Regions from separate parts of the Homo sapiens genome. Here region 1 is linked to region 2. The links come from fine-mapping of genetic effects on gene expression. Tissue or cell type: whole blood. Region 2 holds a variant in brackets; the other region holds the start of a gene. All regions are shown on one strand. Distances are from middle to middle.

What was found. PIP is the estimated chance that this variant, and not a neighbour inherited with it, causes the effect.
Region 1: it holds the start of ARHGAP26, and the variant in region 2 is fine-mapped to the expression of ARHGAP26 in whole blood (TOPMed, PIP above 0.99).

Annotation. Positions count from the first base shown.
Region 1 is chr5:142,765,775-142,773,881 of GRCh38, forward strand. ARHGAP26 (Rho GTPase activating protein 26) reads left to right here and starts at 4,603. Exons shown (of 23, transcript NM_001135608.3): 1 at 4,603-5,141. The coding sequence starts at 4,988. RefSeq lists silencers at 4,407-4,816, 4,827-4,946 and an enhancer at 5,242-6,077.
Region 2 is chr5:142,808,470-142,816,576 of GRCh38, forward strand. The region is part of intron 1 of ARHGAP26 (Rho GTPase activating protein 26); the gene reads left to right. Among named protein-coding and RNA genes, the nearest start is that of ARHGAP26, 42 kb to the left of the region's middle. The variant C/G (reference allele first, on the strand shown) is at 3,649.

The DNA.
Region 1 (8,107 bases), 43 kb before region 2:
GCAGTGATCCCCGTTTTCCCTGTTAAATGCGCTGTGCTTGTCCTTTAGTGGAACAACTTCACCCCAGTACTTTACGTTTTTGGAGTGGGGCTGTTTTATCCTTGACTCCAGTCTTGTCATTTCTATTGGAATTCTTAGAAAACTCTCTTCCTGCTAATATTGCTGGGCGTAATTTGGAGAAGCTGAGAGAGTCACTGAGACTGAAGCCACCACAGACAAAGGTCAGCTTGGGGATGGAGAGAGAAACCTGTGCTGTTATCATCTTCTAGATCCCCAGAGGCTGCCTTGAAGCTGGATCTACCCCTGAACTTCTCAGTTACATAAGGACCCATGAATGCTTCATCACGGATCAGATCTGTTCACAAGCTGGTGTTCAGGAACCAATGTGTGACTGGTCCATGCCCACTTCTGATTATATGGACTCAGAGACAATGTACATGGGAGTGCTTTGCCAGTGGTAAAGTTTCTACAAATGGGAGGTAATTGCATGGCAGGTGTAAAGTTATTTGGACCATTGAGGCCAGAAAAAATGTAGATTTAAAATATACTGATACTGAAAGCAGAACTGTTTGAACTAATTGCTAATTTTAAGGAATTCAGACATTCATCCAAAGGATTTAGGCCAAATGTTGCCTAAATTGTTTCTCTATTTCATATGAAAGTGATTTCTGCGGCTTAACTGTTCTCTTCTATTTATGTGCATGGCCATAACTGATGTTGTCACATGAGTCCTGTTTCTTTCTTATTAAACATGTGTCCGGCTCATTGATGTTCAGCACCTTTGAAGTTCCAATTGCTGTTCTAAGCTGGGGTTGCTGCATTGAATAATACAAAATCTCTACCCTTATGAGCAGATTTTCTGGGAAGAGAAAGACAACTGCACCCTCCATGCGCCAGTTTCTGTACTGCTGCATTCTTCTTTTTTTTTGAGACAGTCTCACTCTGTCACCCAGGCTGGAGTGCAGTGGTGCGATCTCGGCTCACTGCAACCTCTGCCTCCCAAGTTCAAGCGATTCTCCAGTCTCAGCCTCCCAAGTAGCTGGGACTACAGGCATTCACCACCACACCCGGCTAATTTTTTTACTTTTAGTAGAGACGGGGTTTCACCATGTTGGGCAGCCTGGTCTCGAACTCCTGACCTCAAGTAATCTGCCTGCCTAGGCCTCCCAAAGTGCTGGGATTACAGGCTTGGGCCACCACACCCAGCCTGTACTGCTGCATTCTGATTCTCTCTTTCTAGTAATACTGCTGAAAGTGTGGGAGGTTTTTTGTGGAAATTCCATATTAAATTTATGAGAAATTTACACATTATTCACATATTTACATATTTGTCTGTGAATGGGCATATTAAGTTATATGTTTGTGCCACATAGAATTATTAATATTATCTCGGTAAGCTGGTTCAAGTTACAACTCTGGGCCTCAATTTCTTATCTGAAAAAATGGGAACTATCATAGTACCAGTCTCACCCTGTAGGGATTATATGCATGTAAATAATTTTTTTGTTTGTTTTTTGAGACAGAGTCTCTCTCCGTCACCCAGGCTGGAGTGCAGTGGCACGACCTCAGCTCACTGCAAACTCTGCCTCCTGGGCTCAAGCAATTCTTGTGTCTCAGCTTCCTGAGTAGCTGGGATTAAAGGCGTGTGCCACTATGCCAGCTATAAATGCATGTAAATAATTTACCATAGTGCCTGGCATAAACTGAGAGCTTAACAAATGATAGCTGATATATTATTGTTGTTATTATTAATACATATATATTATTTTACACACATTTGCCTACTATTCCTCAATGGGATAAAACAAATAATTGTGGATCACATTTTATTTCATTCATTTAGCATGTATTGAATGTTACCATTTATGCTGGGCCCACTGTGGCAGATTATGTTTTTCAGAAATAGCTACTATAATATCTCCCATTCTTGTCATTCCCCCATCAAGAGGTACAGTCTAATCTCCTTCCTTTGAAGCTGGGTGGGCTTATGAGTTGCTTGTAGCCAATGAAGGTGGTAGAAGTATGTGGCTTCCAAGTGATTCAGGGCAGGCAAGGCCCAAAATTGCAGCTTAGCCCAGGAGGCTTCTTGGCTTTGCCCAGAAAAGAATTCAAGGGCAAGCCAGTGGTAAGAGAAAGCAACTTTCATTGAATCAGTGCTGCTCCTTGTGGAACAGGGCTATCCCATAGGGAGTGTGCTCAGGATGGGCAGTGTACAGGGCTGTTGGCAGCTGTACCTATACCTACCTTTAATTATATGCTAATTAAGAGGTGGGTTATTTAGAACTTTCTGGAAAGGAGGCAGGGAGTTTCCAGAACCATATAAGGTAACTTCCAGGCCATTGCCATGGCCTGTTGCAATGGCATTTGTAAACTGTCATGGCAATGGTGGGAGTGTCTCTATGCTAATGAGCAGTGAGGGCAACTAAAAGTGTCTTTTTTCCTTGCCTGCTGGTTTCTGCTGGCTGCTTCACTGAATCCCGTTTGGAATGAATCCTGGTTTGATCAGTGGGGTTGTGATTGGAAAACAAGTCCTGCAGGCCTCTCACCTCACAAGGCTAGGTCATAAAAGGTGATGCACCTTTCTCCTTGTGAGCTGTATATGTTCACACTGGAGCCTTAAGGCTGCCATACTGGGAGGAAGCCTAAACTGGGCCACAGAGAAAGGCCATATGGAGAAGCCCTGAGTCTACCTGAAAAGTGGGATGCCCAGCTAACCATCCACTCCTCCAGCTCCTGTCACCATCCAACTGCAATCACATGAGAGACCTCAAGCCTTTGGCTTCCCTAAATTTCTAACCCACAGAGATTGTGAGAGAAAATAAAATGATTGCTGTTGTCTTAAACCATTAACTTTTGGTATCATTTATTCTGTATTAATAGATAACCAGAACACCTACCTTTAGGTGCTCAAGATAAAGCATTAAACAGATTTACTTTCATAGGGTTTCCATTCTAGATCTTTCTCATCTTTGGCAAGTGAAGAACAATTGTTTTTGGGTTGTAATTATCTATCAGATAGCTGTCTGGACCTGCTATCAAGTCTAAATTTGTAGATACACCTATCAAAGAGATCACATTCACTTATTTATACATTTACTTATTTATTTTACAATTTTTTGTAGAGATGGGGGGGGTCTCGCTGTGTTGCCCAAGATGGTCTTGAACTCTTGACCCCAAGCAATCCTCTCACCTGGCCTCCAAAAGTTATGGATTACAGGTGTGAGCCACCATGCTCCATTTATGAATTTAATACATTAATTGCTTTCTTAATATAGATGGGACACCTCTGACCCCTCCTGAGTGAAAAATCCATGTTCCCAAGCACCCAGGCCTTCTATCCTATCACAAGGCATGGTTATCGCTTGTTTGCTTCCATCTCACCTAATACCACCAGCAGCTAAATTCATTCTGTTATTCATCTTTGTATTCTTACCATCTAGGCTAGTGCCTGCACATAGCAGACCTATTTAAAAAACAAACCAACCCAAACAAACATGAAGCCCCCACGTAGCTGAAGGAGGGCTGCTGGTTCCTAGACATAGAGATAATTTATTCAAGGACAGTCCCTATCCTCCAGGAGTTAACAATTCAGCACTAGACACCCTGTGGGACCCAGCCTGACAAGTGCAACGAGTGAGATGCCAGAATTGAGTCCTGCGGTCGAACAGAGGGACTACAGGGCAACGCACTGGGCGTGGGAGGTGGAGATGGCTCTGGGAAAGGATCCATTCATTTATTCTACATTTATCAATCACCGTAGCACACACAGCACATAGTAAGTGCTCAATATCTGTTATTAAATGCCAGCCACTGTGCTAGGTGCCAGGATGCAACAGCGGACAAGAAAATTGCAGGGGCACTTGCCCTCGTGGGGCTTACCGTGTAGCGAAGGATGACAGGCAGTAGACTGTCATCTTATTATGTAAAATTGTGCTAGATGCAGAGCAGGAAAATAACAGGCGGCTGAAATTCTAGTAATGATGTGAGCTCCTTCGGCTGAGGGGAACCGTGGGCGGGTTCTGAGCAGGAGTGGCCGTGAGGGGGACGGACCGTAGGGGGCGGGAAGACTGCAGGCAAGAGCTGGTAATTTTAAGATGCAAATAACATTTTTCTGCCTGACTGGAAGAGGAGCGTTTGGTCGCTCGGGATTCTCCCGGAGCAGGGGGCTGTATTTTGAGTGTAAAATCGGTTGCCCCGCAGTGCAGGGCAGGCGGTGGTGAACTGCAGCCCTAGTCCCCAGGTTTTTCATGCTTGGCACATCGAGGCTCTTCGGCCCCCAGGACCAGCAGACTCGCCATGCGTGGCTCGGATTCGGGCTGGAGCAGGCGGGCAAGGTAGCGGGGGCGGGTGCACAGCAACGCTCACCCCTAGGTTTCGGGGTCTGCAACGCTGGGAGGGCAAGAGGAGGCGGAGTTTGCGCTGCGGACCTAGGCGTTGGCGAGGGCCACGCCCCCAGCCGCAGACCCTGCCTCCAGGCCCCTTTGATTGGATCAAGACCGCGGAAGGGCCGGGCGTCCTCGGGCGGCCTGAGGGTCGGGCAGGGGAGGGTGCGCTGATTGGCCCGGCGGGGATTAAGTCATCGCTAGCAGGTTCGAGCGGCCCAGACACCGGCGGGGCGGCCGAGGCTGCTGTGAGAGGGCGCTCGAGGCTGCCGAGAGCTAGCTAGCGAAGGAGGCGGGGAGGCGGCGTCTGCACTCGCTCGCCCGCTCGCTCGCTTCCCGGCGCCGCTGCGGGTCCGCGCTGCGTTTCCTGCTCGCGATCCGCTCCGTTGCCCGCGCCCGGAACAGCAGCACCTCGGCCGGGTCCGAGCTCGGTTCGGGAGTCTTGCGCGCCGGCGGACACCGCGCGCGGAGTGAGCCAGCGCCACACCTGTGGAGCCGGCGGCCGTCGGGGGAGCCGGCCGGGGTCCCGCCGCGTGAGTGCTCTGGGCGGCGGGCGGCCCGGGCCCCGGCGGAGGCGCGCCCCCCGGCTGGGCGCCGCGCGCACCATGGGGCTCCCAGCGCTCGAGTTCAGCGACTGCTGCCTCGATAGTCCGCACTTCCGAGAGACGCTCAAGTCGCACGAAGCAGAGCTGGACAAGACCAACAAATTCATCAAGGAGCTCATCAAGGACGGGAAGTCACTCATAAGCGCGCTCAAGAGTGAGTGTCCCGAGCCCCTCGGGGACGCGGCTCCGGGGCGGGAGGAACTGGGAGGTGGCGCTTAGCCCGGGTTGCCCGCGCGTCTGCCGGGTTTCTGCTCCCGGTACACTGGGGGACGGGTGTCGACGCCTCCGAGGCAGGAAGGATACGTAAAGCGGGCGAACCAGCAACCATCAGATGAAGAGAGAGACCCGTCGCTCCGCCTTTTGCGTTCAGGGATGGTCGGGAGGTGACCCAGCGCGGGTGGTGCTCTGGGGCAGCGCGGGTGGGCGTGGGCGTGCGCGGCACGCAGGTGTCCCAGCAGTGGGGCCAGAGTGCCGAGCGCGCCGCAGCCAGCGGGCAGATCCCATCGTGTCCACAGCTCCAGCTCCCTTAGGGGCAGAGTTGCTCAGCCTTGAGTGCCCAACCGTGAGAATGGAGCGTGCCCTGCCGAGGGGGCGCTGCCTCCCCTTGGGAAAAGGTGGGTTGTGACTGCTTCGCTCCCTGTACGCAGCTCCAGCCTAGTCAGGCCGCCGGGTTCCCTGGGTGGAATGCTTGGTTAGCTTGCGATTCCTTGGAGTATTGGCAGCCAGTAATCTCTAAATCTGGAATCAGTACGTGCGCAGGTTCTGATTCTTGTGTTTAGCAGAAGGTGATAGGGGTGGGAGTAGAGAATCAGAGTGTTCCTTTACTCTAAACTGTGGGCGAGGGTTTAAAAATAGAATGTACATATCCCAACTCTCTCCCTCTCCTGCTCCCAAGCTCTCCTTTTTACCTCTTCCGTTATCCTTGTAAAGGTCTGAGAAGGAATATCCATAATTCTCAGAAAGAAGTTCAAACGTATTTCAAAGATTCTTGGACCTTTTGTAAAACCATTTTTGCGTTTTTTCCTTTTGGTACAAGGGGAGAGATGCAATTTTGCATTCTGCTTCACTTTTGCAGAGCCAGAGAGTTTCTTTTTCTGGCCAAATAAGCGTGCTCTAGGGATGAGTGCTTTGGATTGTGAGAACGTTTTTGGTGCCTTTTCAGTCTCCCCATTTAAAAATAGCTCAGTCCATCTTTTAGTTTTAAGAATCAGGAACCACATGAAGGCAGATAGTGGAATTGTCTCTGACTCTGTTACTGTATCTGTTTCTGTGATGGATTTCTTAGTAGGTGATACCTTTCAGCTAAGAAATCTTGCCTTAGCAGAGTAGAGTCGTAGCTGTGGGAATTGTTCCCAGGCCTCTTTAAAGGGCACTTACAAAAGTCAGGTGCCTGAGATGTCATTTTGTCAGCTTGTTGCTTCTAAAAATGAAGAGAGAGACAATGGAATGCCAGGGCAGCCCAAAGTGCCAATCTTTTGGGATGAAATGAACACAGGACTGTGATGTGATGAGGCTTCTTAGAGGCAGATTCTTAGGCTGTGCCTTACCTGAAACATATGAACAGACCCTTCCTTTGTCAATAATCAAGGCCATTCTTGGTTTAGGGGATGGGGGTCCCTGGTTTGGAGTAAGTTAGGGGCCCACTTACAGGTTGGGCCCAGGAATTTTGATTGAACCTCAGGCTGGCTTTAGTGAGTTCTCTGCTTCACTCAGCAAACTTTTGGTGTGATTGTGGTGTACTGGGTACTGCACTGGGCACTAAGGGTGTAGGAGTGAATATTTTGCTGCTCCTGTGCTTACAGAGGTGTACTTCATTCCAGGCACTGCTTCACATATAATTATCTCATGTGCTTAGATTCATTCTGCAAATGAGAAAACAGAGACTGGGGGAAGCATTACCTCTGAGTCACACAGCTCTAGCAGCAGGACCAGAGCTTTTGAATCCACCTGGTTTGAGCCAGAGATGGAGTCCCTGCCAGTGCAGAGCTCTTGACTTCTGCCCCATCTCACTTGCCCGGAATGGAACCTCTTGCACCAAGCCCTAGAATTTGGACTTGTGTTTTCTATTTTGGCATTGAATCTGAGGAGGGTGCGTTTGGGTGACTGGCAGTTTTCCTACCACTAGTTTTTGGGGGCAAGAATTCTTTGGTAGGAAGAAACATTGCAGTGATAGAGTTGAAGTGTTATTTAAGCTGTCTAATGGAATGGATCAGCCCTGTAATCTGGAGGAAAGACTGATGGGGATCTCGGTGTTCTGTTCTCTCTACGTCCAGCTCTGCTAATGTATTCTACCACTACTAACTACTACTTGATCAGGTCAGGTGACCTCTAAAAATAGAGGGTGGAGTCAACCATTGTGTCCTGGATTTCAGACATTCCGATATCATGAGATGCTTGCTGCGTGGTATACTACTATATTAATGTTTGTGTATTATTTTTCTTCAGTCATGTTTATTATATCTATAAACAGAAGTGTTTTCCCAGTACAACTTAAACATAAATACATAATTATATAAACACTGGGTTTAGATAATCTATGTTCTCTTATAGCTCTAAACTTTTGTGGCTTTATTTTATAGCCATATTTTATTTTATTTTACAGTTATTTTATAACTAGTATTTCTAGCTCTTTGGATTTAACTTGGTTTTGAGTGTTAATCATAGGCAATAAAACTGTCCTCTAGGGATTGCCAAAGTTCAGGTAGATCATTGTTACTATTACTTCCACTTTATGAATGAGATGCTGGCAATGGAGATGCAAATTCTTTATAGATCTAGATCCCGTAAAGGAGAAACATGCAGCAGGTGCTTGATTAAGTGAAAACATTGCCAGTTGTTTTTTAGACTCCGAGCCCTGGGTAGCAAAGACCAGCTAAGATTTTGTATTATCCTCTGAAGTTTTGGAGTTCTTTCTCCATCACGGGCTTTGAAGGCTAGAGGGACAGATGAGAGTGGCTGAATATGTCTTGGCTTTGTAAAGCAGCAGAGTTTCTTTTGGGGGTAGCACTGAATGATTATCAGTGATTGTCTTTTCACTGAGTAATATAGCATTGAACAGAGAGGCCAAAAACCTGTTCTTGGTGTGATTCAGTAAGGTAAGTAAGTGGTTCATCCTCTTTG
Region 2 (8,107 bases):
TGCCATAGTTTATGCTTAGCAACCTGTGAGATACGGCTAGTGTCACTCACTTTTGGTAACACGGAGTCACCAAGGTACAGAATAACTAAGTGGGGTATGCAGGGTCTGGCCAGAAATACAATCTTTTGATTGCTAGCCCAGCTGCTTTCCTTGTTATCACTTTGTGGAGCAGGCTGGACATTGACAATGAGTTCTGAGACTGAGTGGAATGGGAGACCCCTCCCAGCTGGTGGTCGAGCTGCCTAGAGCATGGTCCATCTGTTTGGGACTAGGGTTGAGCTCCAAGATGGACCAATCAACCCCACCAAGAAAGAAACCCCTTCTATCACCGCGGAGTGTACCATAGCTCCTGTCAGCCGCTCTGGAAGTTTTTGCCACCAGAAGAGAGATGCAGAGCATCTTTTCTTACCACAGCTGAACTGAGAACATATGTTTCATCCATATATGGCACCTTACTTATTAAGCTTGTGTCCTTGTCCTTTCTAATACTCTGGCACCTTGCCCATCAGATGGCTGCCCCTTTTTATAAGATAAGTGCCTGTATGGCTGGCTGTTCTGATTTTAAGTCATGAGCTTTGACTTTTATCAGAAATTTACAGCTTGGTTTTCAAAGGACTTAGTTGAGTGCAACTGCATGAAATGGTAGTGTTAAATTTTATACTGTAGAAATGTTGAAATGGAACTCTATAAAATGTGCGTTTTCAGTGTCTTTTTTGAATGGTTTTATTTGTGTGTTTTATCAGTCTTAGACATTTTTATTACTCAAGTAATCTGTTCATTGTAGAATGATTAGAAAATACAGATAAGCAAAGAGAGAGAGGAAAAGAAAAGAAAAAAATATAGGTCTACTGTAAATAAAAGTTCCCCAAGAGAGAAGCCAGGATGTGAAGGACTTTGAGCTTCTTAGAAGAAGGGGTCAGATCAGCTGGTGCAATTCTGCATTCCCAGCAGCACTCTGTTCTTCCTGTTTTGGACACTAGCAATCAAGACAGAAGTTGGGGTGTCTGAATATGTCCTGGAGAAAGTCAAGATGGCTTTTGGTTTGCTGCCCCAGGCAGTGAGTCCCGGTGGTTCAGGGGCCAAAAGTCCTGCAGTTAATCCACCACCTGCAAGGGATGGCTGTGAAAAGAGAAAAATAGTCCTCCTTTGGAGTCCCATTATTTATACAGTTGCTAGCTTTCAAGCAGATAGAGAGAAAATAATCTTACAGTCATGCTTTCCCTCCTCTTAACTTCTGCCAGTCCTGCTGGAGCCATCCACTCCTTCATTCATCTGTCCATCCATCCATCCATCCAATCACTCATTCATTCATTCATCCACTTAGTGGCTCACTTCATTCATCCATTCAATACCAATTTACTGTGTACCTGCTGAGCACTAAACACTGTTGCATTTGGTTCTGGGAATACAGCATGAATAAGATAAGGCCCTTCTCTCATGGATCTTACATTGGACTGGTGCAGGTTTTAGTATCATTGCTTCCCTTTCAGCCTTACCTTTCTACAGCTGTGGATAAGATGCCATGAATTTGCGAGTAAAAGTGTTTATCTCTCCCTGGAGCAGACTAGACCCCTAGGCTCTGTCCTAGAGCACAACTCACCCTTAGCTGCCCTGCAACCTGATCATCTCCAACAGGGAAGGTGAAGAGAAGGCAGTATTTGGCTGATGAATTCTTCTCAAAATGATACTTTAGTTTTGTCTGGGAGGGGCAGGGGAACAGATCACAGAGGGAGGGGTTCTTGGCTTTATCAGAGAAAGAAGGCCTCATTGTGTGTTGTTGTTGGAACAGGTCCCAGAGACCTCAGTACAATTCTTTGGACAGGGCTGAGCTAAGCTACCATGTATACAATAATAGTCGAAAGAATAGTGTGGAATTTAGGGTAGTATCAAAGAGAGCTCTGTGTTACAGCTGTCTTCAGGCAGAGGGCATGACTTCAGCCCCAGGTCAAGTCCTGTTGTTAACTTCATAATATTTTAATGAACATGCCTTTTTGTGTCTGTTCCTCTCCCCTCTCCCCCATCTCTTTCTTTTTTGTGTGTGTAGTCATTTATTAAGGGATTTTGATAGAAAATTTAAAACTTAATCTCTGTAAACTCTTCCTTTTGAACTATGGCATACCTGAGTGGACAGGCAAGTTGCAGGGATGGGGACATTTGACACAGAGAACTTAGGAAGTTCCAGGAAACCAGTATTTCTGAAACTGTAGTCAATTCTGTTTTGATTTTTTGCTACATTGATGTAATACCTATTTCATTGTTGACCTAATATTGTTCTTTAAGTGGGAGTGCTTGTTCTTTTTGAAGGGACACTCTTCGTTTAATAAAGAACAAGTATAATTCGCCCAAAATAGTAAGTAACCATAAGCGTTGATATGTAAACTCTAGTGTTTGTGTCCTACATAAAGCGATTTGTGGTATGCAAGGACATATACATACCACATTTTGGGAAGTTCTGTTGTAGATTGTACCAGCTGTATTCACCATATTCTTGGAGAGTCAGATGAATAAATCTACCCGCTTCCAGTCCTTTCCTCCCATCTCCCTCTCCCACACTAAAGTGAATTGTGGGGCATGACACAAGTTGGAGAGAGGCCCCAGGGAGTGTTCCAGGACTGAGGGAAAGGAGGATTTGTGGCTACTCTGTGCCCTGCCAATGGAAGTAAAAATAGACCTACCTCCTGGGGTTATTGTTAAGTTTCAGTGAGCCAGTGCATACGGACTTTGCTTATTAGCACAATGCCTGGCCTTCCACTTTTCCTGATCATCTATAGGCACTGGCCCCTTGAATAACTTCACTCTGTATGCTGGGTATACAGTAATATTGCCAGCGCTGAAGCAGAAGATGCAGACACTGTGAAATGTGCTGTGGTCAACCAAGCTGTCCACATGCCAGGAGATTTATTTCCCATCTCTTCAGCAAGCTCTCTCCATCCTGGGTGGCATAGAGTAGAAGCTGAGAGTGTGGGCTCTGGACGCCGACAGCATGGCTTCCAATCCTGGCCTGTCCGTCACGTGTAGTTGGTAAGTACCTTATCTTTTTCATGTATTCAACAAAAAAACACTGTGTGCCTGCTGTGGGCCAGCCACTGTTCTAGGCTCTAAGGATTTGCTAGTGAACAATCTGAGGGACAGAATCATGCCTTTGCGGAGCTTATATTCTGGCCTTATTTTAGTCTCTTAAATGGAAGTAATAATAGACTTACCTCCTGGGGTTATTGTTAAGTTTAAGTGAGCCAATGCATACAGAGCCTGCTTATTAGCACAATGCCTGGCGTGCAGCTATTACTTAATAAATGCTAGCTTTTCACTTATGATACTCTTGTGCGCAGCCTTGCACCAGGCTTAGAACCCATTTTCATCATTCCGTTCCTGCTCTGGCTTCAGTAGCACCCAACTGAAATATTCTCTCCTTATTTCTTGGCCTCTAAGTAATTCTTGAAACCTCCCAGCTCTAGGAACCTCTTATGGCTTGCAGCCTCCTCACCTAATCATAGCACTCGAAGAACTCCTGGTCACCTCCTGAAATAAGCTTACTCATCACCTAGCTGCTGTGATGAGTTGGCATTCTCATCTCCTGGATGACGTTTTTTGGAAAGGATCTTTTGTGAAAGGCTCCCCCTCCCCACCCCGTCTACTGCCTTTTCCCCC[C/G]AGTGCTTCCTCTTCGCTTCCTGTAGTATGAGGGTTGTTCGGGCAGACATCCTGACCTTGCAGTTGCTGTAAGGATCTTTTTAACCCAGTTCTTTACAGGAAAACTCACTGTAGCATGGTTGGTCTAATACAGAGGTATTTTTTCATATTTTTAGAGCTGGGGTCTCACTCTTTTGCCCAGGCTAGAGTGTAGTGGTGCAGTCATGGCTCACTGCATCCTTAAACTTCTAGGCTCAAGCAATCTTCCTCTTTTTTTTTTTTGACAGAGGAGTGTAGTGGCGTAATCTTGGCTCAGTGCAACCTCTGCCTCCTTGGGTTCAAGCAATTCTCGTGCCTCAGCCACCCGAGTAGCTGGGATTACAGGTGTGCGCCACCATGCCCGGCTAATTTTTGTATTTTTAGTAGAGGTGGGGTTTTGCCATGTTGGCCAGGCTGGTCTCGAACTCCTAGCCTCAAGTGATCCTCCTGCCTCGGCCTCCCAAAGTCCTGGAATTATGGGCATGAGCCACCACGCGCAGCTTCAATCCTCCCTCTTCTGCCTCCCAAGTATCTGGGACTATAGGCACATGCTATCATGTCCAGCTAATTAAAAAAAATTTTTTTAGCGATGGGGTCTTGCTATGTTGCCCATGTTGGTCTTAAACTCCTGGGCTCAAGCAGTCCTCCTGCCTCAGCCTCCTGAGTCTTTGGAGTTGAGGGCATAAGCCACCGTGTCTGGCTCCTAAAACAGGGGTATTGATGCTGGGCCTTAGCAATCAATTATCTGTGGGAGGGCTTGACTGCATGTTAATTCTATATAATTTCTTTTTCTTTTTTTTTCTTTCTTTTTTTTTTTTTTGAGAAGGAGTCTCACTCTGTTGCCCAGGCTGGAGTGCAGTGGCGCGATCTCGGCTCACTGCAAGCTCCGCCTCCTGGGTTCACGCCATTCTCCTGCCTTAGCCTCCTGAGTAGCTGGGACTGTAGGTGCCGGCTACCATGCCCGGCTAACTTTTTTTGTAGTTTTTTAGTAGAGATGGGGTTTCACCGTGTTAACCAGGATGGTCTTGATCTCCTGACCTCGTGATCCACCCGCCTTGGCCTCCCAGAGTGCGGGGATTACAGGCGTGAGCCACCAAATTCTATATAATTTCTAAAAAGAAAAATTCTACCTATCCTCTCTGTGTAATTGACATAAGATTTTGTCCTGGGTTCCCAGCCTCTGAAAGGCAATACCAGGTCAGTCTCCATTGACTTCAGCACTCAGTGGCCTGATAGGACTTTTGTGCTCGGCCGTGCCACATGGCTGACTGTTTCAGAAGGAAACCAGACTGCTCTGCCCTTCAAAGAGTGGGAGGGAACTGGGTGACAGGGGTGACTTGGACAGTGTGTGTATTAATCTTCTAGGGCTACCATAACAAGGTCCCACAGACAGGGCAGTTTCAATAACAAAACTTGGTGTTCTCATAATTCTGGAGGCTAGAAGTCAGATCAAGGTTTTGGCAGGGCTGTTTTCTTCCCAGGTCTCTCTTTTTGGCTTGTCTTCTCCCAGTATCTTCACACGGTCTTTTCTCTGCTGTGCCTGTGTCCTAATCTTCTTTTCTTATAAGGTCACCATATTGTATTAGGGCCTGCCCTAATGACCTCATTTGCCTTAATTACCTCTTTAAAGACTCTATTTCCAAATACAGTCCCATTCTGAGGTACTGTGAATGAGGACTTCAACATAGGAATTTTAGGGGCCTCAATTCAGCCCTTGACAGTGTGGTTCAGGAATGCAGTTCCAAAATACACTCATGTTACCTAAGCCTTGAGTTCCTCAGGTGGGCCTCTGAGGGCCAGCAGGGAAGACAAGGTCAGCCAGCTTTAGGCTTGGGTGTGGACTTGGTGGCCACCATTACTAGTTTAATAAGATCTTACTGGTGGCTTAGGCAAGTTGGCTGTTCCTCAGGAGGGTTGGCCAGGCCTGAAGTAGGTGGACAGTGTTATCCACAAGTAGGTAAGCTTTGCTTATTAACCCTTGTGTCTTGGCTACTTTCAGACAGGAGTTGAGAAAGAGGAGTAGGAATAGTTTGGGGAAGAATTTGTTGATAGTAAAAGTGTGATATTGTCCTTCAGACAAGACTCAGAACTTTGTCAAGAGTTGGGAACACCATGGCTAGAGCCTTCCGGTAATCTGCAACTTCCCTGTTCTTCCTGTTAGATGTGCTGTAAACAGCGACTGCCTACAAGAGAGGTTTGGAATCTGTTGACTTTGGCTGGGATGTAGCCTAAGGAGATTCATCGGTTTCCAATTCCTGTTCTCTCAGGATATTAAGTATTGCCATGAACTGGAAAATTTTTCTTTATTAAAATTGGAGGAAGAGTTGGAGTGTTTTGAAAGAGACCTGGAACAGGAAGGGAGCTGACATGAGAAGTTCCACTGCATTGCTTCAGAGATGATTTTTATCTTTTTTGTGTTGCCGGTGCTCAGTGGCTTAAATCTTCAGTACAACAAGGTGAGATAAACAAGTAAATAAGATTCTGGAAGTACTGACATGGTAGCTAGCTTGTGAGGCAGTGTAGTATGGTGACTAAGTGTACAGGCTCCGGAGTCCCACTAACCCGCATTCAGAACCTAGCTCTACTGCTCATCACCTGTGTGACCTTGAGCCAATTATTTAACCTCTCTGGGCTTCAGTTTCCCTATCTGTAAGATGGTAATGATGTTGGTACTTACCACACTGGTTGTTGTGACAATCAGATGAGATAATGCGTTAGTGCCTGTAGACAATGCTCAATAGTTATTAGCCAGTTATTAGCCTCTGCTCTTGTTATCAATGTAGGATGATTGAGAGGCTGTTTCCCTAGTCAGTTGGCTGGCTCCTGACTCAGGGATAGAGCAACATCATATTACTTACGGAATTACATGATTTTTATCTTTTAGAGACAGAGTCTTGCTCTGTCACCCAGGCTGGAGTGGGGTGGCATGATCTCGGCTCACTGCAACCTCTGCCTCCCGGGTTCAAGGGATTCCCCTGCCTCAGCCTCCCAAGTAGCTGGGATTACAGACCAGCGCTGCTACACCTGGCTAATTTTTGTATTTTTAGTAGAGATATGGTTTCACCATGTTGGCCAGTGTATTTTTAGTAGAGATATGGTTTCACCATGTTGGCCAGGCTGGTCTCAAACTCCTGACCTTAGGTGATCTGCATGCCTCGGCCTTCCAAAGTGCTGGGATTACCGGTGTGAACCACCATGCCTGGCCAGAATTACATAATTTTTATGCTTGCTTTTCTATTTCTATTTTAGCTATGAGAACTCACTTTAGTCTTTTTTAGAGAACAGCAGTTACACTGAAGGAGGACATTTCTTTTAAATGGAAAAGAGTATTTTTTAAGTTATATTTTGTGTTTTGTTATAAATCTAAGGTTGGTTAGTTTTATTGGTTAAAAAAGTTTGCTAAGTGATGAGGGTCATGGATTCTTATTCACTGCACACATTTATTGAGATGTCCCTGCCACCTTCTAGCACCTTCCCCTGCTTCCTTTGCAGTCTCCAACCACACTGGCTGTCAGCCCTGGTCCACCACAGGGCCTTTGCACAGGCTGTCCCCAGGACCTGGAGCACTTTTGCCACTTCCCCTTCTCACCACTTTCAGACTCATTCGAGCCTCACTTTCCCCGGCTAGCCTTCCTGGTCCATCTGTGCTACTGCTGCTCTTTTCTTCTTATTTTTTTGAGACCAGGTCTCACTCTATCACCCAGGTTGGAGTACAGTGGTACAATCATGGCTCACTGCAGCCTCAACCTCCTGGGCTCAAGTGATTCTCCCACCTTAGTCTCCTGAGTAGCTGGGACCACAGACATGCACCACCATGCTTATTGTTTTTTTTTTTTTAATTTTTGTAGAGATGAGGTCCCGATATGTTGCCTAGGCTGTCTCAAACTCCTGGGCTGAAGCCGTCCACCCGCCTGGGCCTTCCAGTGTATTGGGATTACAGGTGTGAACCATGGTGTCCAGCCCCTCTGTGCTTCTGTAGGACTCTGATTCTTTCCCTTCTACAGCATAGAGATATTGCTAACTGTACACTCATTTGGGTACAATTTGATTGAAGTTTGGCTCATCATTAGATGGAAAGCCCATGAGGGTAGGAACCATGTCTTTTTTTGTTTACCATCATATACTGAGCAGCTGAGAGCAACTTGGTGCATGATCGACACTGGATAAATATGTGTTGATGAGTGAATGGATATCATTTTGATGTAAAGAGTGTTAGGTACAGTGAAGGCTGCAGCGATAAAGCCTGCTCAATCTCTTCCCCTAAGGAGCATCTGGTATCATAGAGAACACAATTAAATAGTGCCATAGGAGGAGTACATGAGTGAAGCCACAATTCACAGGAGGATAGTCACTCTCCATTAGTGGAGAAGCAAAGGCATCTTGTAGGAGATGCCATGTGCGCCCTGGGCCTTGGAGAAAGAGGAGTTGAGTCAGAAGAAAT